Regions from separate parts of the Homo sapiens genome. Here regions 1, 2, 3, 4 and 6 are each reported to be linked to region 5. The links are microRNA targets in miRTarBase. Many come from high-throughput screens and were not tested one by one. Region 5 holds a microRNA gene; each other region holds the end of a gene's coding sequence.
The links. Region 5 holds the annotated microRNA hsa-miR-4430 (AGGCUGGAGUGAGCGGAG, at 2,224-2,241, opposite strand). A microRNA usually pairs through its seed, bases 2 to 8, with sites in the 3' UTR of a target mRNA and lowers its output. Matches are read on the target gene's strand: a 7mer-m8 pairs with bases 2 to 8, a 7mer-A1 pairs with bases 2 to 7 and ends in A, and an 8mer does both.

Region 1 (4,091 bases), not on the chromosome of region 5:
AAGAAGAAAAAAGGAAGGAAGGAAAGAAGGGAAAGAGGAAGGAATGAAGGAACAAAGGAGGGAAAAGAGGATGAAAGGAAGGAATATTTATTTAATGGAGGAAGGAATGGTTGATGCCATTAATAGATATTAATTTGTCCAGGCTATTTTGTTCTTCCCAACTGCCATATAATCTATGCTGTTAGGGTTGCCAGATTTAGCTAATAAAAATACAGGATGCCCAGTTAAATTTGAATTCTGATAAACAATGAATATTTTAAAAATATAAGTATGGCCCATGCAATATTTGGGCCAGGCTTATACTCAAAACCTATTTGTCATTTATCTGAAATACACATTTAACTGGACATCCGTTCTGTATTTTGTCTGGCAACCTTACGCGCTTTTCACCCTGAATATGTGTTTTTATCAAGCCGCCCACAACAGAAGTGGCAGCTCATTGGACTAGAATACTTTCCTGCCAACAATTTCAAGGCTAGGTGTGCTGTTAAGCTTGTACACTATATTACACAGTGATGACTATAATTTCAAGCCTTTATGCATTTCAGACTCATTGATTTGCTCTCTGTTTAATTTCTATTAGTCAAGAGCATGTGGCTTTTAAAGCTATATACAAATACATATTGAAATTGTTTTAGATTACTTATGACCTAAAATAGAGATGCACACTTAATATTTTCTAATGAAATTTTTAACGAAAAGTTGCATTTAATATTTGGCAGAGCATTTTGCAGGATTTAAGATATATCTGGTAAAGGAAAGAAAATTCAGATCAAAAGTTGTGTCTTTCAAAAAACATTGATAGGTTAAAGCTCTCATAGTTTCCAAGAAATCTTGATCATACTTTCTAAAATATCATGTCACTTTGCACAATTTGTGCTACTATGCATTACAACTAAGATTAGAGTTCCAGACAACAGTGATGTCATTTCATGACCATTTAGAAACCTTACATGCATCATTCTAAGCAATGGGCAAGGTATTGCATAAATATTGTTCTAAAAGAGGACCCCGGGGGTGGAGGCATTTTTTTCTAAGGTGACCAAAGCACCAAGAATCGACCTTTGTACAGATGGGGGAAACATTCAGGCAGATAGGAGTATTTTTACGATGAACACAAACACAGCCAGTACCTGCACCATCTTTTCTGTTTACAAAACATACATACACGCCCATGGCTTTGAGTGAGTCCCAAACACTCAAACCTGTTTTTCTGCAATCCTCTCAGAACCACAGCCTAATGGTGCTTGTAAGGATGGAGCTTTGGTTTTGTATAATGAAAACACCAATACGGTGCTTTCGAGGTCCAAATTAGATATACTCATCCTGTACAAATGCAGAGAAGTGCCAAAATGGCTATCTTATCTATGTATTTAATGGATTTGGAAGTACCTTTTGTATATGTTTTTCCAAATTATTGGTTCACCTTTGAATCCCTAGAACAGGTATCATACACTCCAGATTCTGACTGACGATGGATCAAGCTTTCTTTTCCTTACCTCTCCCTATCTACATATCAGAGTGTTTTGGCAATTATATTAATTTTCTAAAAAAGATTACAAACCTAACAGGTGGAAAAGTGGTCTTTGTTATAGTACAAATAAATATTACCTATTTGTCCTCTTCACCATGGTTTCAACCCACCACTATTGGATTTGAAATATCTTTCTTCTCTCTAAGTATTCTCTGTATGCCCCCCCTCTTTTTTTTTAAGAACCAGGAAAACATAATGGCAAGTTATTTAAGATTTAAAATGTTATGCAGCAAATAAATAGGACGCTGTTGAACCCCAAGCTCAGGTGTGAATTCAATGGATGCATTTTGGCTTTTCTTTCAATTCCGTGAGCTGAACAAATCATGCTTGGAAAGAATGAGAAGAATCTGCCAATAACACATTCAATCATCATGATAAAAACATGCAAACCAAAAAGATAGTCTTCATTTGGGTCTAGATAGCAATTAGAGTTATAGGAGGACTCCTCTCCATCAGAAGCGTAGATCGCCTCACTCAGGGGAAAGTCCCAGGTCAGATATTTTAACTTTTTATTTCATCTTGGCCATCTTCACACCCAGTAAACCCCTCTGTCTGATGTGAGGCAAGCCCAAAGCCATGCCATGTAAATACCGCTCTCTACCTGGAACTCTCCTAGTGTCCTACCTTTCTAGCTTGTTCTGAAAGTCTTCTATTTGTAAACCAATGCTCTGACAATAGGGTGTGGTGAGCGATTATATGTTATTAGTTTTTCATATTCGATCGTGAATTAAGAGCTAATTAACTAGGAGCAAATCCGTAACTTAACATGACGTCAACTGGATTGGTCAGCACAGAAGGTTTAGTTCAGGTTGGGTTCCCATCTTGGGGAATGGCCGAAGGTGGAGGACCACCTGAACACATAGGAGGGCCCTTAGTGTATGCGGGCATCATGCTGGAAGGGAGAGAAAAAGAAGTAGAGAAAACACAAATGGGCAAATGAAAGAGATTGGTTAAGACCCAGCCTTGCTTATCCTCAACATTTGAAAATGGCTGGTGAAACTAATCTGCCAAAGCATTTGACCTTGGTCTCTGCCCTGTTTCCTAAAAATGACACAAATGGTCTGGGCATGGTTGACTATATAAGGCATGGAACTTCTATGACACATGATGCACATTATCTTCAAGCTATGGGACTCCATGCACATTAACATAAGTGTACAGAAAGCCATTTGTTTCTTTATGTGAAATGAAACCTCAAGGGCACACATTGCCTCTATCTTTGTTAAAGGTGGGCTCTAATACTGGTCTATCCACAAGAAAACCAAAAGATGAAAGAAGAAAATAAGCTTCTTTTCATCTCAATGTTCTGCAAAGAAGAATATTTTTCTACCAACCTGTTAAGGGCACATGCTCATTCATAGGACACTTAATGTAGAAAATAACCAAAGGGAAGAGGTGGAAGGTGGCAATTACTAAAAGTAAGCTGCAAAAAAGCATTCATTACAAGTAACAATCATAAAGACAACTTTAAGCTATTCATGAGCTGATTAAGGAATCTCTATATAGTAACTACTTCTAGCACTCTCCAATCTTTCTTCCATTGCTCAACTTTTTGTCACTTTATAAGTCATTGGCATTGCTATGGAAAGGTGGGGTGGTGAAATGGAATGGTGACAGAAGTTAGTATCTAATAATTAAAATGAAAGATAGCCTTGGCTGGACACTGGAGCTTGCCTTGGGTAATTCAGGATTATGGATGATGAAGGCCTAAAAAAAGCAGTAGTAATCTGTGAACTTTATCTCTCTAAACCCGTTTTATTCTAGTTCCCAGCTCTAAACTAGAGGACTTAAGAGAATGATTAGGACTTAGTTTTCATGTTCTGGTCTTTCATTAAAATAAATCCTACTCCAGCAAGCTACTATCCTGCTTGGCATTGGGAGATGCTAGCTGCCTCTAAGCAGACCCATCTCCCTGTAAGAAAGCTCCTCACCAGGCTAATCGCAATGCCTCAGAGCAAACCCATACCTGCAGAGCTATTCTTCATCCACGTCTGTTACAAACTGTGAATGGTGTTCGGGTGACTTGCTGTGCGTTTTGCTTAGGTGGAGTTTTACCGCATGTTTGCTCACAAATGTCCGACAGCACAACTTACACTTGAATTTAGAGTCTGTGTCCTCTTCGGCAGCTATTGTTTCTGGAGACCTCTGAGCCGACGATACCCGGGAGATCTCTTGCTCCACCTTGCTTTGCTGGTCCACTGACAAGCGGGTCATGTCCTTCATTTGGAAACCCAGGTGAGATTCTAAGTGACTGATGTAGGTAGAAGGGGTTCTGAACTGGGAGGCACAGTCACTGCAATAAAAGATGGGGTGGCCTTTGTCCATGTTTTTCAGAAATTTTGTCCCGCCCGTTTTCCTAAGCTGGTACTTGACGTTGGCCAGCCAGTGACTGATAGTGGTCATTGAGAGTCCCGTAAACTTAGAGATTTGCATACGCTCTTGTGGGCCCAGATCAGACAGCAGGTATTTGCCCTCTGATGTCTGGAAGAGGCTCGAGGCAAACTGGGCTTGTAGAATCAGAAGATGCTGAGGATTCCAGTTGGACTGCCGGCCTTTT
Region 2 (4,088 bases), not on the chromosome of region 5:
TGGACAAAGGACAAATCTGTCTGGAAAGTGTTTTAATTTGCCTTCTCTTCTGTCCTGATTGCAGATGGCTCACACTGCTGAGATAACTCACGAGATCATTGGCTTTCTTGACCAGACCTTGTACAGATGGAATCGTCTTGGCATTGAAAGCCCTAGATCAGAAAAACTGGCCCGAGAGCTCCTTAAAGAGCTGCGAACTCAAGTCTAGAAGGCACGCAGGCCGTGTGGGTGCCCGGCGTGAGGGATCAGGCTCGCCAGGGCCACAGGACAGGTGATGACCTGTGGCCACGCATTTGTGGAGTAAGTGCCCTCGCTGGGCTGTGAGAATGAGCTGTACACATCTTGGGACAATCTGCTAGTATCTATTTTACAAAATGCAGAGCCAGGTCCCTCAGCCCAGACTCAGTCAGACATGTTCACTAATGACTCAAGTGAGCCTTCGGTACTCCTGGTGCCCGCCCGGCCAGACCGTCAGCTTGATAATTACTAAAGCAAAGGCCTGGGTGGGAGAACAGGTTTCTAGTTTTTACCCAAGTCAAGCTGCACATCTATTATTTAAAAATTCAAAGTCTTAGAACCAAGAATTTGGTCATGAACCATTAAAGAATTTAGAGAGAACTTAGCTCTTTTTAGACTCTTTTTAGGAGTCAGGGATCTGGGATAAAGCCACACTGTCTTGCTGTATGGAGAAATTCTTCAAGGGGAGTCAGGGTCCCTCAGGCTTCCCTTGTGTCTCCCTGGACCTGCCTGACAGGCCACAGGAGCAGACAGCACACCCAAGCCCGGGCCTCCGGCACACTCTTTCCACTCTGTATTTGCTAAATGATGCTAACTGCTACCAAAAGGCCCTTGGGACATCAGAGGAGCCGGCAGGCGAAGGTAGAGGATGTGTTCCAGAAACATTAGAAGGCAGGATTAATTCAGTTAGTTAGTTCTCTTGTTAAATGGAAATGGGAATTGGAAATTCCTGATAAAGAATTGGCCTGGCTGGGTGCAGTGGCTCACACCTGTGATCCCAGCACTTTGGGAGGCCAAGGCAGGGGGATTACTTCAGCCCAGGAGTTCCAGACTGCCTGGCTAACATGGCAATACCCTATCTCTACTAAAAATACAAAAATTATCGGGGTGCAATGGCATGCATCTGTAATCCCAGCTATTCAAGAGGCTGAGGCATGAGGATCTCTTGAACCCGGGAGGTGGGAGTTGTAGTGAGCCGAGATCATGACACTGCACTCCAGCCTGGGCAACAGAGCGAGACCATCTCTTAAAAAAAGGCATTGTTAGTGTAATCTCAAGGTTAACATTTATTTCATGTCAGTACAGGGTGCTTTTTCCTTTCAGGGACATTCTGGAATTGTATTGGTTGTACATTCTTTTGTGTCTATTCTGTTTGTCAAGTGAGTCAAGACTTGCTTTTGTCCATTTTGATTTGTGTGTATTAGTCTGAGTCTTGGCTCCGTTTTGAGGTATGAGCAAAGTTTTGCTGGATTAGAAGTTAACCTTTAGGGAAATTCCTTATTTTGGTATGTGGCAATGCTAATAGATCCACTGAAGATCTGGAAAATTCCAGGAACTTTTCACCTGAGCCTTTCTTCTGAGAAATGCTGCAGTCAGAAGGGTGTGCTGGTAAAGTATTTTGGTGGCAGCTGCCATCATGGTCATTGCCTTCATATAACATGCTTCGTGCTCATGGTCATTGCCTTCATATAACATGCTTCGTGCCATCATGATCCTTGCCTTCATATAACAAACATGCTTCGTCAGAGGTGTTGGGGTTGAAAAAGGAGCTGCATGCTTCACTGGAGTTGAGGGCCTCTCTCCTGTTCTGACTTTAAGCCAGAACTTGTGGCTGGGCCATGGAAGCTGTGACTCCTCTGTGGACATGGTGGCAGCAGGGAACCCCTAGAGAGAGGGGCCACTGGGACCAGGCCTCCTGTTGTGGAGGGACTCCTGGGACAGTCCTCCACCCTGTCCTGTGGTCCTGTGTACAGGGTTGGCCTCTTCCTCCTCCCCTGCCAGGCCTCTGCCCATGCCCCTTCCTTCCTTCTCCTGGGACTGGTGAAGCTAGGCATCTGGAAGACTTCTTCCTAGCCTGGAAGCCCTGACCTCGGCCCATCTGCAGAATCTCCCAGTTCCTTCACAGCTGCCGAGTCCTCTCACGGGTGCGGTGGAGGCGGCCTTGCCGGTGGTGCTTTCTGGGCAGCCAGGGGTTCCTGGGTGGGAGGACTGTCCCTCTGGGGACGTGGCACTGAAGTGCCTGCTGGCTTCATGTGGCCCTTTGCCCTTTCCCAGCCTGAGAGATGCTCAAAGGTGGGGAGCTGGGGGAGCCACCCCTCGGCCATTCCCTCCACCTCCAAGACAGGTGGCGGCCGGGCAGGCACTCTTAAGCCCACCTCCCCCTCTTGTTGCCTTCGATTTCGGCAAAGCCTGGGCAGGTGCCACCGGGAAGGAATGGCATCCGAGATGCTGGGCGGGGACGCGGCGTGGCCGAGGGGGCCTTGACGGCGTTGGCGGGGCCTGGGCACAGGGGCAGCCGCAGGGAGGCAGGGATGGCAAGGCGTGAAGCCACCCTGGAAGGAACTGGACCAAGGTCTTCAGAGGTGCGACAGGGTCTGGAATCTGACCTTACTCTAGCAGGAGTTTTTGTAGACTCTCCCTGATAGTTTAGTTTTTGATAAAGCATGCTGGTAAAACCACTACCCTCAGAGAGAGCCAAAAATACAGAAGAGGCGGAGAGCGCCCCTCCAACCAGGCTGTTATTCCCCTGGACTCCGTGACATCTGTGGAATTTTTTAGCTCTTTAAAATCTGTAATTTGTTGTCTATTTTTTCATTCTAAATAAAACTTCAGTTTGCACCTAATGTTGTATCCATTAAATATTACAATCCTTCTCTCAGGAAAAAGCTCCCCCGATGGCCCCAGACAGTGGAAGCTTCGGGCCTCAGGAAACCTAGATGTGCCCTGGAAGAGACCGAGGATGGCTTAGCCTCTGGGCCTGGGAACCTTGCTACTAAATACCTAAAAACTAAGGGTCCTGTCACCAAGGAGGAAGCAGGAGGACAAGGGCAGGCATCTGGCAGGGCCTGCCAAGATCAGGTTACATGCGTTTCATATCTGTGTTTTCTCTAAGCCAGGCTTGACCATAAGCCTCACTTGAATTGTTCTGTCTCTTCCCTGATCCCTGAAGCTGAAGGCCTCGTCCCACCAGCATAGCCCACCCACTCTTGCTCGCTCCGTTGCTTCACAGGCTGCTGTCCCCTCCTCCAGCCCCACAGGCCCCTCTGGGAGGCATGAGTGATGCGGCCAAGGCGAGCAGCGCCGTGGCCACCCCCAGGACCCCCACTGCAGTGGGGTTTCCAGCACTCCCCATGCTTCCGGCTATGGGACACTAGGGCCCCTCTCGGGGTCAGGAGGGCGCCTGAGGGAGCAGACAGGAAATGCTAAGACACTCCTGAGGAGCCTCTCACTGGAGCAGCCATGGTTGGCAGGGTTTCGTGGTTTGTTCTTCACCCTGTCCTGCCTGGTGTCTAAGTGGTGGGACAAGGTGCTAGGACAGAAATGGGAGCTAGGACAGAAATGGGAGCTAGTCCAGGGGATGGGAGGAAGCCGAGTTTTCTGTTGAAGTGGAGAAGTTACGAATGGGGTCTTGACAGGGAAGCCAGAGAAGAAGGGACCTTGGTGAGCCTGGCAGAGTGAATCCACCCAAAATGCTGGGAAGTCAAAACCGAGCCTGGCCTTACGCTGCCCAGAGGACGGCGGATGCACTGGAGGATTTGCACAGTGGGAGCAAATGTGAGGAATGTTCTCCTTATTCAACAAGGAATCCAAAATTTTTTTGCTTTCCAAGGAAGAAGAGAAACAGTTCCCCGTGCTTCTCCCCTCGCCTTTTTCTTCCTCTGTTTCCAGCCCAGGACCACCTCCCCCAGCCCGGGGGCTCGGGTGCTAAAGTTCTTCCCTCTGCCAAATGTTGGGAAATCCGTAGATTTTGTCGAAAAATCCTAAGTCATTAATCATCGCTAAGCCATTTTACAACCAAAGAACAAAAATTAAGATACAGTAAGTACATAACATGTCTTCAAGCCTCCTCC
Region 3 (4,091 bases), not on the chromosome of region 5:
CACCTCAATCTGAAAAGTATCAGGGCAACACCACACACTGCAGAGGGGCAGGGCTCCTCCGGCAGTTACTCACTTCCCTTGAAACAGAAGCTCAAACATGGAGTAGTCTTCTGTGACTAAACTTGTTTTCCGCCCTCCCAACTTCCAGGAAGAACCTTCTTCTGAATAGGATTTGAGGTAACTTAGGAAACTGCTCTCAATACGGAATTTTAAAGTTGGTGAGGAAGTCGACAGAAGGGGAAGTCACAGTAGGAAAATCAAGGTACTATCAGGATGAAGTCAGCACGCAGAGCAAGGCCAGCGAGGCCCAGGCGCCAGGCCTTGGTCCCTGCCCACCTCACCCAGGCCAGCCAGACAGCACGGACTGCCCTACAAGGTCACCTCAGAGAGATGGGGGTGTTCTCTCACTGCTGGCTTTTGATGAGCCCAGGAGGGCTCAGCCTTCACTATCCTCCCTAACAGGCATTTGGGGTGCAGAGATGCTGACGCCTGAATAAGGTTGGGATTCGGGGCCCTTGGGAACACTGGGCACCTGGTGGGTGGGTGGAGGGGCAGGACCGGCTGCAGCCATGTTTCCCTTAGAAACAGACTGCTGGAATTAACGAACTAAACAAATGAACCAAGGTGCTTCACCCCCCAAAAAAGTGAGTTTTGTTCTGCGTGGAGCGATTGCCTTTGGGAAGCCACCAAGGCCACCTGCCAACAGGCAAATGCTGTGCTGCCGTCTGCCTGGCTGACTCCGGCCCTCCCAGTCCTGCAAGCTCATGGCCAGGACGATAACGATGACAGGGGCAACACCATGGTCCTCGCTGCCCTTCCTGGGGCAGGAGGGCCCAGAAGACTGATAAGCTAAACCCAGGGCCTCCCTCGGCTGCTTATCTGCCCAGCACCTTTCCTCTAGGTCCTCTCCTCCCACCAGTACAGGGGTCTGGGAGGGGGTTGCAGGGGGTCCTGAACCACAGATCCCTGGAGACTCAGTGGGAGCAGCTGTACTAGGAATCAGGCACCACTCCGCTGCTGTAAGTCTTCGTGAGAGCCACTGGCCAGCTTCCTCTGACTTCCCTGTCCCCTCACCCAAATCGATGACATCAGGAGCTAATGGCCCAGGCTGCCCTCCTGCTGCAGTGCCCATAATTCTTCCGGCAGGCCCCGCCCTGCACTCCACGACCAGCCTGGGTTCTTCATCCTGGTAACCTGACAATGGATTTCGTGGGGCCCACTCTCAGTGCCCGCCAGCCTGTGTCCTGCCTGGCCAGGCAATGAGTACCGGCGGCAGGCAGCTGCCTCACCCCTGCATGACCCCCCCAGCCCAGGGGACTCAATGGCGCTGTCATCAAAGGGGCAGCTGTAGATCTAGGAGGGACGTGGAGGGGGCTAGCCCTGGGCCTCTGGCATTGTGGAGGCTGACCTATAGAGAACAGAGCTGGAGCTGGGGAGACATGAAGTCTGCACATCTAGACCCCAGTGAGGAGCCCAGGCTTTCTAGGCACAAGCCCCATGGGCTCCCCGGGCCCAGCCCCTAAGAACCACGGCAGCTGCGCCAGGCCACTCCTGTCTCCACTTCCATACCCTCCAAAGGAGAGGCACCTCCCCCCCCCATGGCATCTCCAATCTGAGGACCTGCCACCTCCCAGAGGACCGGAGGCCCTGATGCCCCAAGAATTGGGCTTGGAAAGATGTTAATATCCACTGCCCCAAGTGCCAAGGTTCAGAGGCACTGGTCCAGGACACACAGCAGCGGGGAAGTGGAACCCTCACTCCAGCCTGCAGTCTGGGCTCTGTCACTGTGCTGTCTCTCCATCCTTCCCTCCCCACAACCAGGGCTGTAGGCCCACCTAACACACCACACACTTCCCAGAAACAGGAGTCACATCCTTTTCAGGGCTGGTAGGGTGGCTGAAGATGGCCCAAAACCTCCTGAATGGAAAAACCTTGATGGGGAGACTGAGGGCCAAGGCAGAGGTTTGTCCAAGGTCACCCCCAGAGTGGCGGATCCAGGACCCTGGGCAAGATCTTCCTACTGTCCAGGCCTCTCCCCCACCTCTCTTGTGTGGCCCAGCACCCTGGACTCCTCCATGCCCAGGTGTGCTCCCCCCAGGCACGCTGGGGGCAGGGTGGGCAGCAGGTGCCCCCCACCAGGATAGTGGTTCTTCCTCCTGCAGACCTTCAGCCCTCTGCTCCTGGCAGGACACTGTGGCCCTCCTGCCCACGTTGGTGCGGGTTGAATTTGACGGCCCAGCAGAATTCCCAGGCAGGGCAGCCTGGCTATCCTCCCTGGTGTCTCGGCTCTGAGAGCGGAGACCCAGCCTCCCAGCCTGGAGTTGTGGTGAATTCGCAAACAAGTCTCCATCTCCAGAACCTTCCTGAAGAAAACAGCTCTCCAGGCTGGGGCAAGAAGCCTGTCCCTACAGTGATACAACCACCCCTCAATAACCCCGGGCACCACCTGGCACCCACTGGGGGCCACCAGGGAGCCCACCAAGCCCACTCCGGGCTTGGACAGAGGGCAGGCCTGGAGGAAGGCACATCCAACCCCACTGACCGGCATGCACCTGGGGCCAGGGGCCTGCTGCCACTGCAGAGGTGAGAAGCAGGAGCAGCAAGACCTGGTGCCCATTAGTCATGGGGGAAAAGCAAAAGGGGGAGACAGGGACAAATCCAGGCCTGGGTGGGCTGCCTGTCAGGGGGAGTGATATCCAAGGAGGAACTGGTGGTCAGAGTGGGGTGGGGGATACCCGGTACAATTTGTTCATGCCTCAACACCAGCCACCGCGGGCCTGCCAGCCCTGTGTGCCCTCCCTGGCCCGGAGTCCACAGGGTGCAAAAGGCTGACCGCACAGGACCTCCCGTGAGAACCCTACGCTGCAGAGCTCGTTCTCTTGGCTTCCAGGCCTTTTTATACGCTGTCCTGCTGCTTGGACATGCCAGTCCCCACCCCTGCACCTACCGAGCTCCTGCGGCACTCAGCTGTCACCCATCTGGGACGCACACCTGTCCGAGGCTCTAGATCAAGGTGGGAGGTTAGTCCTCACTCCCTTCAGGGGCTGGACAGCGAGCTGAAGGCCCGAGCCCAGCTGCACCCAGAAAACCTGCCACTTGGAACTCACCTGACCATCCAAGCCCAGCCCCCAGTGCATGCGACAGATGAGGCAGAGATTGTGCCGTACAGAGATCAATATATATAAAGTGCCGGTACAACGCTCTGAAAAATAGTTTTGTCCCAAAATCCAGCGCCTAGGGTGCTCCGGGCCTAGCCTTTGCCAGTGAGGTCCAACGGCTGCAGGAATGGGGGCAGCGGCAGCTCGTCCAGGGCCTCGGGGAAGCGGCCTGGAGAGATGGCGGTGACCAGCACCTGCATGGCGCGCGCGAAGAGCGAGGGCGGCGCCAGGCCCGCCAGCCACTGGAACTTGTCCTCACCCAGCAGCCGCTGCCAGCGCGGCCGGTCGCCCAGCAGCTCCTGGCGGGCCGAGCCGGCGGCACCCACGGGGGTGTACAGCGCCAGGAGGTCCAGCAGCAGCAGGCGGCGCTGGCGCGGCTCCCCGGGAGCTGAGGCGGGGGCTCCGGCGGCGGAGGGAGTGGCCCCGGCGTCGCGGCCCAGCTGGCGCAGCAGCAGCTCGAGAGGCGTGAGGCCGCCGCCGTCCCGCAGACCGGGCGAGGCGCCGTGGCCCAGCAGCAGGAAGAGGCACTCGGGGCGCGCCAGCTCACAGGCCACGTGCAGCGACGTGCCACCGCCCTCCACGCGGCTGCAGCCACGCCGGTCCAGCACGCGCGCCCGCTCCTCGGCCGGGAAGTCGCGCAAGGTGCGCAGGATGCGGCGCAGAATGCCCACGCGGTTGTAGCGCACTGCCAGCGCCACGTGCGGCCCGGGAGCCGCGCAGCAGCGGAAGCCGGCACTGGGCGGTGCGAGCGCGCGCCGCGGGAACGTGGCCAGCAGGTAATGCGCGTACGCTTGGTGGTCGTGCACGAGCGCGTAGAGCAGCGCCTCAGAGGGCGAGTAGGCGGCGGCGCGCCCGCGCTCGTCCCAGTGGAAGGCCTCGCTGGCGCGCATATCCTCCAGCAGCCACACGGGTAGCAGGTCGCGCACCGCCTGG
Region 4 (4,091 bases), not on the chromosome of region 5:
GGGCACAAAAGAATGCACTATCACCATCTTCTAATTTCCGCAAAGTATCAGAATTTTATGACTACAGATTAGCCTCATTTCCTTTCCCAAAACCTTTTTCTTCAGGCTGTTTTAAAATCACGATTTCATTTACCCTCTGACCTCAAAAGCATACAAGAATTATAATTGAATTATAATGGAAATTATTGCTTGCATTTATTCTGGATGCTCTGAATGAGCTTGACACTTTGCTCCCAGTCTCCAACTGAGGCTCAGCACAGCTATCTCCGAGGACAACCCTGCTGACTGTTATTGCTTGTGAATACTGAGGATTAACTTGTATGTACAGTAACAGCTTATATATCAGTGAAGGCAATTTAAAATATAAAACAGTTGAAAACAAACAGCTTAATCTTCCTGAATCAAGAATCCCAAGGAGTGGGATATAATCATGTGTGCTGATTATTTTTGCATTTGGATGTTGCTAATGCTCTTCAGAAATACACGTTGCTCTATAGATATCCTTTCCAATGACTCACCATTTTAAAAAATAACATAATTTGATTTTTAAGTGCAAAAATACAGTATGAGTCACAAGTCTCTGTGCTAAAAAATAACCAATTTATATGTTTGTTTTTAGTAATAAAAACGGTAAAGACAGGTGACCATAAAGTATGGGCACCTTTTTCAATGTTATGATCTAGGAAAGAAATAGATTACTATTTACATGTAGAAACTCTCTGATCATACTTTATCTATACAGAAATACAACGATGTTTGACTGATTCATACAACATAAAAGGGGGGTCCTGACTGAAATGAATGTAAGTCGTCAGTGCAGGTGGGGGTTTAAGGTAGGGATCTGACAGTAGTCCTCAAGGAATCAAGACTAAAGAGAACACAGAAGAATCTCCACATTGTATTCTTGGAGCCAAGGGCCTTCAGATATTTTTACTGGTTAGTATAAAATGTTACAGGGAAAAGAACTGATTATCTTGTTCTTTTCTAATGATGACAGTCACCAGGGATCTTCATATGGCATGATTCAGAATTGATGGTTTTAAGAAATTCAAATGATTTTTTGACTCAAACTAGTCATTTATATGAATGTATGTGTGTATGTATATATACATACAGACAAACATATATACAAGTATTCAGGAAGAGAAATTAATACGCACTTCGACTTCTCTTGTGGTATGAGAAGTAAAACAAAGGCTACCTTCCCAAAGGAAAATCCCATCACTTCCCCTAGTATGAAGCAAAGACCTTTTTATTCATATTTCGTAAAAGCAAGAGGTCCACTACATTTGAAAAAATTAAAAAAATTGGGCAAGCTTCCTTAATTGAAACCAAGCAAATCTTCATCAAACATACTGAATTCAAGTCAAACCTCTCTGCAACATCCTCCCAGTATCCTTCCAAAATATCTACTGGGGTTCATACTACATCCATATTTGTTTTATTGATAAACTAAATTCTTAGAGTCAAGAAATTATATCAGTGATTCCTTTGAAATAATCCTTTCCCTTTACTGTAACAAGTTCTTGGAACTAAAGTTTTCAGTTATTTATTAACTTTTTCGCTATGAAGCAAGCCAATGTGACTTTGAAGTCAAAATATAGGCATACAGATCTGAACCGATCTGTGGTTATTTATTCACAGTCCTGTAGGGTATCTGGGACTTTTGTGTATAAAAGAAAAAAGGGCCTGGTTAATACTCTTAATTGAGTAAATCTAATGGTATAGGGTAATGTATAATAAACACATATGCAATAAATCTTGTCACTACCAGTCTATTTTTTTTAGGTTAGTGTCATTATAAATGGATGAAGCTTATACCATTTAGAGTTTACACCATTCTCTGATATAGTATGAAAATATTCAGAAGCTTAAAAAACTAGAATAATGCGGCAAAAAAACCCATCAAATCAAATGTATCCAAGGAGAACCATAAATTTTTCCCTTAACATCCTTTGTTGAATATGCTATTTGCATAAGGAAGCTATAATAACTAAGGAGTCTTATTTTCTGCAGATTTACTCACATACCAATACACTGAGTAAATAGTGAAGCTTTAGGATCTCAAATGCTCCAAACAATTTCACTACACTGGATACAGGGAGTAAAAATATGTCGTGATTGTGATCCTAATGTGATTCCTCCCTTTAAAATACCATCTTAAAAATTCAAAAACTATATTCATGCCATTTGAATGACCAATGAAGAAACATAGTGTACACTTCTACCTGTTTATACCAATAGCTAATAATCACCTGAAGGACCACTAGCTAAAAGAACAGAAGGAGAAGTTGTGAAGTTAGATGAACTGGGGAAACTTAGAGTTTATGTTGCTGCAAGGGCTAAAAGCAGCAAAGCAATAACCCTGTAAAGATCCCCATTTCTCAGGAGAAAAATGTGAACACAGTCACATTTTAACATCAAGAATGGAAATAAGAATTAACCAGTCAATACTAGATGCACAAATCACCTGAAGAAAAGAGTTAAGTACCTGCTTCTGAACGGAAGATGAAATTGACCCTTTTACAAAAAGGGGACATCTAGGTTTCATCTCTTAAGAGCAACAGGCTCAACTTCCTGATTTTTAAAAATCTAGATGATTTAATAATATATATCACTGTGCTAAAATAACTTTCCTGAAGGATCTTTAGTCCACTGATTGAGGGAAGTTGCTACACACTGGAGGAGATTCAAGTTTGTTCAGGATTTTCGAGGGTGTGCTATGCAGCTACTGTCTATCGGAGATAGAATCATTATTATTTCTTTTTGTGGCAAATCTGCTACACAGTCCATTCAAATAGACATGATCATTATTCCTGACAAACTGGCCTAATTCCAGTTTTTAATGCCTTTTATTACCAATTATGTCTGTAAGTGTTCAGATCCAACCCCCAGGATGGATGGAGTTTACCCAAATTCTCTTCACTTCCTTCTTCCTCCCCCGGGAAAAATCAAATTTGTATTTCTGTGGGTTTGACAACTGAGTCTCTTTCAAGTCTGTTAATACGGTAACTCTGTCATTCTTTAGAAGAGACCAAAGGTCACTAACTTTGCACAAAAGCATTTCTTCCTCCTGCACCTGGCTTTGCTCAAGTAATGTTTTCTTTTCTTTTTCCTCCTCACCACAGTGCTTGGGACGAGAGAATGTAAACATCGACAGAAACAGCAGCCCTATGACCACATAAGTACTTTCCCATCAGGTAGATTCCATCAGTCAACTAAACATTTCGTCTCCTTTGCTTGCTGGGCAGTCACTGAGATTTCCGTGGTAATTTAGTGTCCCCTTTACTTTGGCCTCCATCTGAGAAAAAGAGACGTTAAATTGGTATGGGTCCATATGTTACAAAAACCAGCTAACAAAAACAAAGCAAAAACAACAATTAACTTTTATCTTTTGTGGATGACATCTCTGAAAAGATATCACTTTTAATATCTTGCATGCCATATAGCATTATAGAGGTTGATAAAACATCATGGAGATAAAAACTCAACAACAATGATCCTCTTCTCTCAAATGACTGTGGTTTTCAGTGTTTTTTAAATATGATTTCAACAAGTATTTATCATTTACGTCCCAGCCAATTGTGTCAAATGCTGTGAGAGGGTTATAAAGGAACCAGAAGACACAATTCCTACCTCCGAGGGACCCACTACATCTTTCAACTCCTTTGGAAGACAGGTCAATTTCATTTTTTTTTTTTTGTAAGTGAAATAAAATTTCTTGCCAGGACACAGCATTTCATAATTCCTGATTATTTGTGTAAACAAACGTAGCAAACTTTTCATCTGTAGTGAAAAACATCCAGCTGAGTGTGTGCTCATTCTAACCTAGCTTTAAGTGACAGGAAAGTCTGCTACTGGGACAAGGCTCTTTCCTTTTTTTTTTTTTTTTTTGAGACGGAGTCTCGCTCTGTCGCCCAGGCTGGAGTGCAATGGCGCGATCTCAGCTCACTGCAACCTCTGCCTCCCAGGTTCAAGCAATTCTCCTGTCTCAGCCTCCCGAGTAGCTGGGATTACAGGCGCACACCACCATGCCCGGCTAATTTTTGTATTTTTAGTAGAGACAGGGTTTCACCATGTTGGTCAGGGTG
Region 5 (4,091 bases):
GCTTGCAAATTCTTTGACACTCTTCCCATCAAATAGTAGAGTTTATGTTCCCTCCTGTTGAACTTGGGTGGGCTTTTGTAACCGCCTTGATGAACAGAATGTGGCAGAAGTGAGGATAATTCTGAGTGAAGTTAGACATACAGCTTCTCCTGGCTTCTCTGGGGAGAACTGCTCTGTGGGGCATGGGCTTCCATGTACAAATCAAGATACTCTGAAAAGGACCACTTGGAGAGTCTAAATAAGTAGACAGATACCTAAGGAGCCCCAGTTGTTCCTATCCCCAGCTTCTTGAGTCTTCCCGGCCCAGGTGCCAGAGCTTTCAAGATGACCCCAGCCTCATCCACCACGTGACTACAGCCTCATGAGAGACCTCAACCCAGCTCAGCCAACCTGCTTCCTAATTTCCGATGCCTTGAAACCATAAAAGACAACAACTGCTTGTTCTCGTTTCAAGCCTTTACAATTTAGGGTGATTTGCTATGCAACATTAAATAACAAGACCACAGCCTGAGTAAATGAAGCTGCTGAAGGGAGCCCAAGAGAAACTCGGAATTACCTCCAAATTTCTCTGAAGAAAGGATTCGAGGTAAGGAAAAGATCTGCAGCTGCTTGTAAGGCAGATCATCTGTCTTCACCATGCTGAAAGAGCAAGGTGGACTCCTGCTTGAAGAGCACTGTAACTTACTCATGCAGTAATGTGGAATCAGGAAAGGAAAGTGATAGTAACAATTTGCTTACAATTGCCAGGGCAAGGGCAGAGACTTGGAGAACACAGTGGGAAATGAATGGTAAATATGTCATTCTCTACTGGAGGCAGGAGTGGGAAGTAATTAGCTGGGGAGGAGTGGGAGCTGGCTAAGGTCAGAAACAGTGACCTTACAGCATTATTATCTTTCAAATTCAAATACACTTCTATACCTCGCTTTGGGTTGCTGGGACAGAAACTGCAAACGACATTTCTATTTTTCCAGCCAGATACCTTTCAGGCTCTTTAGGGGGTGGTAGAGGGAGCCTGCAAGGCTGGAGGAAGAAGAGAGAATTTGCTGCCTCCTGTCTACTTCTTATTCCTGTGATGTCACCTGAGCAAAGCTTCTTCAAATGGGCAGAGGCACGGCCTTCTCACAGCAGCAGCTGAATCTGCTTTTCAATTTTGTCCCATTTATAAAACACGCTCCTTTGTACCCACTCAGAGACATTAACCCCAGCCAGCCAGTACCAACTCCTCAGAAAATTTGAGTCTCCAAGACTCCTACTCTACGTTTCCAAGTTTAATAATTCCAATCTCTTCCCTCTTTTCCCTCAGTTGAAAGGGTGGTAGCTGATGACTGCAGTTGCCACTTACCTCTGTGATACTTTAGAGATCTTTTTTCCCTTCTCAGTTACCTAGCTAATGGCTTTTTACCTAGTTGCAATTCTTCATATTAAAATTTTCCTTTTCCTTTACCTGGTGTGGCTTCTGTCTGCTGAATGGATCCTGACTAATAAAAGGTATTTCTTCCAAAGAAAAATCTATGATGGTAACTGAGGTTGGGGGTAACTGAAGGTTCAAATAGCAGGGAGATCAAGTTCAAATACCAAATGCAAAGACCACAGACAGAATTTGAAAGAGTGACCACAAAGTTAGGAGGTTGAAGGTGGGCAGAGACATAAGCAAAATAAGAGTAGGACTGGAACAAGATAGAAGGCTTAGGGTGATTGCTATGGAGGTGGAAATTATCAACCCATCCACCTACCCGCTACCCTCCCCCAGTCAGTAGGATGGGTAAAGCTGATTTAAAAACCTCAGGCAAGGCCAGGCGCGGTGGCTCACGCCTGTAATCCCAGCACTTTGGGAGGCCAAGGTGGGCAGATCGTGAGGTCAGGAGGTTGAGACCATCCTGGCTAACATGGTAAAACTCTGTCTCTACTAAAAATACAAAAAATTAGCCAGGCATGGTGGCATGCGCCTGTAGTCCCAGCTACTCGGGAGGCTGAGGCAGGAGAATCACTTGAACCTGGGAGGTGGAGGTTGCAGTGAGCCGAGATCGTGCCACCGCACTCAAGCCTGGGCGACAAAGCGAGATTCTGCCTCAAAAAAAAAAAAAAAAAAAAATCTCAGGCAAAAGTGGACATTACTTGTCTAGATTTGGGGTTGATGAGGGTTTTTTATTGGAGGTGGGAGTCGTTTTGTTTTTTTGAGACAAGGTCTCCCTTTGTCACCAGGTTGGAGTGCAGTGGTACGATCTCCGCTCACTCCAGCCTCACCCTCCTGGGCTTAGGTGATCCTTCCACCTCAGCCTCCCGGGTAACTGGGATGACAGTCACATGCCACCATGCTTGGCTAATTTTTAAAATGTTTCGTACAGATGGGGTCTTGCTATGTTGCCGAGACTTGCCTTGAACTTGTGAGCTGAAGCGATCAAGTTCTAAGAGCAGCTTATAATATGATTTTTAACGCATGTTGTCTATGATCATAGAGGGAGATAGACATGGAAAGAAAGAGGGCCTTTTCTGCCTTGTGCCTTTTTCCATGTCTATTCTAAGGACCAGGATTGCCTTGAGACCAACACTGTGAGAGCCCTGACTCAGTATCCATAGATATTCTATCTGCACATTGCAGAGCACTAAGCCAGTCCGCCTTCTCAGCTTCAGACTAGTCAGTTTCATGGACTTTCAGCATCTCTGTGTAGATGTTTCCAGGCACCTCAAACCCACCATGCTCAAGGATGGATCTAATCTCTTTTTTCATTCAGATTTCCCCCCCGCCGCCACCATGGAAAGCAGGTAGGAAACACTGGATTTCTTCAATGTAGCCCCCCAAAACAGAAACCTGGTTGCCTTTTCTTTTTTCTTTTTTTTTGAGATGGAGTCTCACTCTGTCGCTCAGGCTGGAGTGCAGTGGTGTGATCTCGGCTCACTGCAACCTCTGCCTCCTAGGTTCAAGCGATTCTCCTGCCTCAGCCTCCTGAGTAGCTGGGATTGCAGGCGCCCACCACCACACCCGGCTAATTTTTGTATTTTTAGTAGAGACAGGGTTTCACCATGTTGGCCAGGCTGGTCTTGAACTCCTGACCTCAAGTGATCCGCCCGCCTCGGCCTCCCAAAGTGCTGGGATTACAGGCATGAGCCACCACGCCCGGCCCTGGTGACCTCTTAGCATCTTCCCTTTTTGCTTCTTCTGGCTTCAAACTATTTGAAATACTCTGTGTGACACATCAGTGAACAAAATGAAGTCTTGTTGCCTAGTTGGGAAAAATGGAAAATCAGCAAAAGGTAAATCTGGGAAAGACTTTTTATTTAAATTATTTCTCTTTGAAGGGACTCATGAAAAATTGAGAAAATAGGGAGCGGTACTGGTCATGAGGAATGTGGGGAGGGAATCCTGAAATCTCCAGCTCTGATTTGCAGAGAAGGTTTGAGAATAAAGAGCTCCAAGAGCTGTTTGACTCATGTTGGCCGATCCTGAAATCCAGAAGTCCCCTGGCAGGAAACCCTCTGGAGACGACAGACTAAACCATCCTGCCATTGTCAGCCTCACAAGGGGCTCAGCAACTCAGCAAAAGGAAGTTGTTTTTTTGTATTGCACTTTTTTTTTGTCTTAAAGAGATATCCTTCTTAATAGTTACATTAATATCTTGAATAAAGATGGAGAGTGTATGTCAACTTGGAAGAGACAGCAACCATACTGGAAGTCAGAATCAGAATCTCAAAACATCTTAACATAAGGCTAAAGAAAGGGACCAACAACAGAAGAGAAATTAATAGGAGCAAAGGTAAAATTTTGTACTGAGGTTCAAAAAGCCACTTGTAGAAGTGCAGAATGGGGAGATGTGGCTGAACAGGACCCCAAACTTTTCAAGCTTGTTCTTGATGTTCTCTCAGTCAGGGTATGCTAACTGCTATAATGACAGTGCCCAAGTCCCAGTGATTTCAAGATATCCTGTGGAGAAAAAAGTATGGAAGGGGCCAGGCACAGTGACTTATTCCTGAAATCTCGGGACTTTGGGAGGCCAAGATGGACAGATCGCTTGAGCCCAGGAGTTCAAGACTAGCCTGGGGAACATAGCGAGAACTTGCCTGTACTAAAAATAAAAATAAAAATAAATCAGCCG
Region 6 (4,091 bases), not on the chromosome of region 5:
TATGTATAATATATAATATATATTACATTATGTATAATATATAATATATATTACATTATGTATAATATATAATATATATTACATTATGTATAATATATAATATATATTACATTATGTATAATATATAATATATATTACATTATGTATAATATATAATATATATTACATTATGTATAATATATAATATATATTACATTATGTATAATATATAATATATATTACATTATGTATAATATATAATATATATTATATTATGTATAATATATAATATATAATATATATTATGTATAATATATAATATATATTATATTATGTATAATATATAATATATATTATATTATGTATAATATATAATATATTATATTATGTATAATATATAATATATTATATATTATGTATAATATATAATATATTATATATTATGTATAAGATATAATATATTATATATTATGTATAAGATATAATATATATTATATTATGTATAAGATATAATATATATTATATTATGTATAAGATATAATATATATTATATTATGTATAAGATATATATTATATTATGTATAAGATATATATTATATTATGTATAAGATATAATATATATTATATTATGTATAAGATATAATATATATTATATTATGTATAAGATATAATATATATTATATTATGTATAAGATATAATATATATTATATTATGTATAAGATATAATATATATTATATTATGTATAAGATATAATATATATTATATTATGTATAAGATATAATATATATTATATTATGTATAAGATATAATATATATTATGTATAAGATATAATATATATTATGTATAAGATATAATATATATTATATTATGTATAAGATATAATATATATTATATTATGTATAAGATATAATATATATTATATTATGTATAAGATATAATATATATTATATTATGTATAAGATATAATATATATTATATTATGTATAAGATATAATATATATTATATTATGTATAAGATATAATATATATTATATTATGTATAAGATATAATATATATTATATTATGTATAAGATATAATATATATTATATTATGTATAAGATATAATATATATTATATTATGTATAAGATATAATATATATTATATTATGTATAAGATATAATATATATTATATTATGTATAAGATATAATATATATTATATTATGTATAAGATATAATATATATTATATTATGTATAATATATAATATATATTATATTATGTATAAGATATAATATATATTATATTATGTATAATATATAATATATATTATATTATGTATAATATATAATATATAATATATTATGTATAATATATAATATATAATATATTATGTATAATATATAATATATAATATATTATAAATAAGTTGGATGTGGTGCACACACCTGTGGTACCAGCCACTCTGAAGGCTCAGGTGAGAGGATTGCTTGAGCCCAGGAGGTCAAGGTTGCAATGAGCTATGATCGTACCACTGCATTCTGGCTGGGCCAGAGCGACACCTGGTCTCTAAAAATAATATGACTTCAAGTACACAGTTACTCATTTGAGGTAGTAAGGGGTGGCATAAACATCAACTGTTCCATCATTAAGTACACTGTGGCCTCTTTCTTGTCCTTCCACTATAGAGTAAATAGTAGTCAGATAACCCAGGATGTACAACAGAACTCAGACATGGACCTCTGCAGTGCTTATTTTGGCTCTGTAACTACTGAAAGAGATCTCAAATAAGGATCTTTTTAGAAACTTAAAGTAGTACTTCATAGTACTTAGTAGTACCAACACACGCTTTGGGTAAAAGGAAAATCCTTTATGAAAATGCAAACTTTAGGAATTAAATGCTCCCCATAGGGACTCACTTATTGCTGTATACGTGACTGCAGGCAGAAAAACACAATCTGAATGAACTTGTTTTTTTTCTTAAACTTGGAAAACCCAGAAAAGGTGAGTGGTATACAGGGGCCAATTAACATAAATAGCACGAGGAAAAATGAGAGGAAGTCACTCCTCTCCTCCCAATGGGAGTACTGTGTTTTGAAGGATTCATGAATGGAATTTCAGAAACTTGGCAAAAGAATACATTTACTTCACTTACTCCATATATATTCTGAATTTCATATTTACTAAATAAAGTGTTTCCAAATGAACATTTCTTTTTTTACATGTTACATGTAAAATTGTTTTACATGTAAAAACATGTACATCTTTTTAACATGTTACATGCAAAAAATCTTTTTACATGTTTGTTATATGTTGTTACATGTGAAAACTGCACATTAAAAAAAGGAAAGGCAGGCGAATTCATCATTCAAGTTTTTAGATGTCCATATAAACTTCCACATAATCCACGAATATTAAACTGGATAAACAAAGCACTCTACAAAATTTACCTTGCCACAGATGTGAAATAATTGTAAGCATACATAAATGTTAACAAAATGCTTTCATTCAATTCTAAGGGGAGGTATCATTGAATGATGGACCAAAACAAACTAAATAGCATTTTGATGTCTGTGGAAATGACATACCCACAAACCAGTGGCTCAGCACTGATATTAATATATCTTGCTCAGTTGCCTTAATCATTTACAGCAGTATAATTTTTTTTAAGAACACAGACAGTAAGGTGCTTTTAATAATTTTGATATGGCCATAGAGTATATCTATTTTTTGAAGTCCTACTTTCATTGGAATTGCCTCTTTATCCTAATGAGTAAATACAAAAGAACGCACAGATAAGATAGCTTTTGTCTTCTTCTTCTTGTTTTCTGAGAAAGAGTCTTGCTCTGTCGCCCAGGCTGGAGTGCAGTGGCACAATCTTGGCTTACTGCAACCTCCAACTCCCGGGTTCAAGAGATCCTCCTGCCTCAGCTTCCTGAGTAGCTGGAACTACACGTGCGTGCCACCACGCCCGGGTAATTTTGGTATTTTTAGCAGAGATGGGGTTTCACCATGTTGGCCAGGCTGGTCTCAAACTCCTGACCTCAAGTGATCCACTCCCCTCGGCCTCCCAAAGTGCTGGGATTACAGGCGTGAGCCACCACACCCAGCAGATATTGTCTTCTTTTATTAGAGAAAAATGTACTTTTCTATGCCTGTGCTTTCTACATTTTTGGAACTGATACAAATCCACAGAGGCCAAATCGAAATCTAAATTATCTTTAATGTTAAAATTTAATTGACCGTGTACATAACTATGCAATCCCTGCTTTCTCACAGAAGTGTCTAGGATTCATTCAACAGATCATAGAAACGAGGTCTGGCATTTAACAGACGAGTGACAGAGGAGCTATACCGATTTATACAACAATTATCAAAACACTGTCATGTAGTTTACTGTAGCTCAAGTTGTGCTTGTATCATATAACATAGGTTCAAGTTCTTTCTTCAGTCATCAGAATAACAGAGGTTGAAGAGACAACTGGGTAAGTGCCAACTTTTCCAAAAGCTGTTTCAAAAAAAAATTTAAGTAACTGTAATACACATTTCTGCAAATAAAATATTCCAGTGCTACATCAATCCTGAGTTTTTAATATTAAATATGCACTACTTACAGTTCTGACATGATTTTATTTAAAAACATGTCTAGTTATCAAGTTCACTGTCTTCATCGGAAAAAACTCTGTCACAAAGGTCTTCAAAGTCCTCAAGAGCCTAAAAGAAAAAGTCTAGTTCACTGACAAACCACCACTTTATATCTCGCATTTTAAACAGGGTTAATTAAATGTCAAAAGGAAACAGCTTTTAATATTCAAAGGATGCCAGTTATTCATTTCAAATAGAAAAAACTATAATCAATACATGGAGCTCCAAATACCCAATTAAATTTTTTAATGCCAGATTTCAGTGACATATTATTTTAGCAGGTCTAACAGTCATGTACTTTGCTTAAATAAAATGGGTTGAAGAACATCTTAAGGTCAAGATGGAGCGAAGACAGAAAAAGACGGGCAGGCTTATATCATGAAATATTATATTTTTTTTCAGCAGGTAGCGACCCATGTATTATCAGCAATAGCCTACATAACATGGTTTCCATTGAAGGGATAAAATGGTTGGTGATATGACCT

Region 1: the mRNA of TSHZ2 is a reported target of hsa-miR-4430. The part of its 3' UTR that is shown has no 7-base or 8-base seed match.
Region 2: the mRNA of FANCC is a reported target of hsa-miR-4430. Seed matches in the 3' UTR shown: 7mer-m8 at 1,234-1,240.
Region 3: miRTarBase lists ANKRD9 as a target of hsa-miR-4430. Seed matches in the 3' UTR shown: 7mer-m8 at 3,043-3,049.
Region 4: the mRNA of UBN2 is a reported target of hsa-miR-4430. The part of its 3' UTR that is shown has no 7-base or 8-base seed match.
Region 6: miRTarBase lists FAM9B as a target of hsa-miR-4430. Seed matches in the 3' UTR shown: 7mer-m8 at 2,818-2,824.

The regions. Positions count from the first base shown.
Region 1 is chr20:53,255,981-53,260,071 of GRCh38, reverse strand. It overlaps TSHZ2 (teashirt zinc finger homeobox 2), which reads right to left. Exons shown (of 3, transcript NM_173485.6): 2 at 3,501-4,091. The coding sequence ends at 3,509. Among named protein-coding and RNA genes, the nearest start is that of TSHZ2-AS1, 250 kb to the left of the region's middle.
Region 2 is chr9:95,097,827-95,101,914 of GRCh38, reverse strand. It overlaps FANCC (FA complementation group C), which reads left to right. Exons shown (of 15, transcript NM_000136.3): 15 at 65-2,861. The coding sequence ends at 208. It also overlaps a transcript of AOPEP not described here. Among named protein-coding and RNA genes, the nearest start is that of MIR3074, 14 kb to the right of the region's middle. RefSeq lists an enhancer at 1-256.
Region 3 is chr14:102,503,686-102,507,776 of GRCh38, forward strand. It overlaps ANKRD9 (ankyrin repeat domain 9), which reads right to left. Exons shown (of 4, transcript NM_152326.4): 4 at 1-4,091. The coding sequence ends at 3,251. Among named protein-coding and RNA genes, the nearest start is that of ANKRD9, 4.0 kb to the right of the region's middle.
Region 4 is chr7:139,296,997-139,301,087 of GRCh38, reverse strand. It overlaps UBN2 (ubinuclein 2), which reads right to left. Exons shown (of 18, transcript NM_173569.4): 18 at 1-3,301. The coding sequence ends at 3,252. Among named protein-coding and RNA genes, the nearest start is that of TRR-CCT4-1, 42 kb to the left of the region's middle.
Region 5 is chr2:33,416,669-33,420,759 of GRCh38, reverse strand. It overlaps MIR4430 (microRNA 4430), which reads right to left and starts at 2,244; the gene lies at 2,196-2,244.
Region 6 is chrX:9,021,909-9,025,999 of GRCh38, forward strand. FAM9B (family with sequence similarity 9 member B) reads right to left here. Exons shown (of 9, transcript NM_205849.3): 8 at 3,576-3,675; 9 at 2,324-3,469. The coding sequence ends at 3,607. Among named protein-coding and RNA genes, the nearest start is that of FAM9B, 10 kb to the right of the region's middle.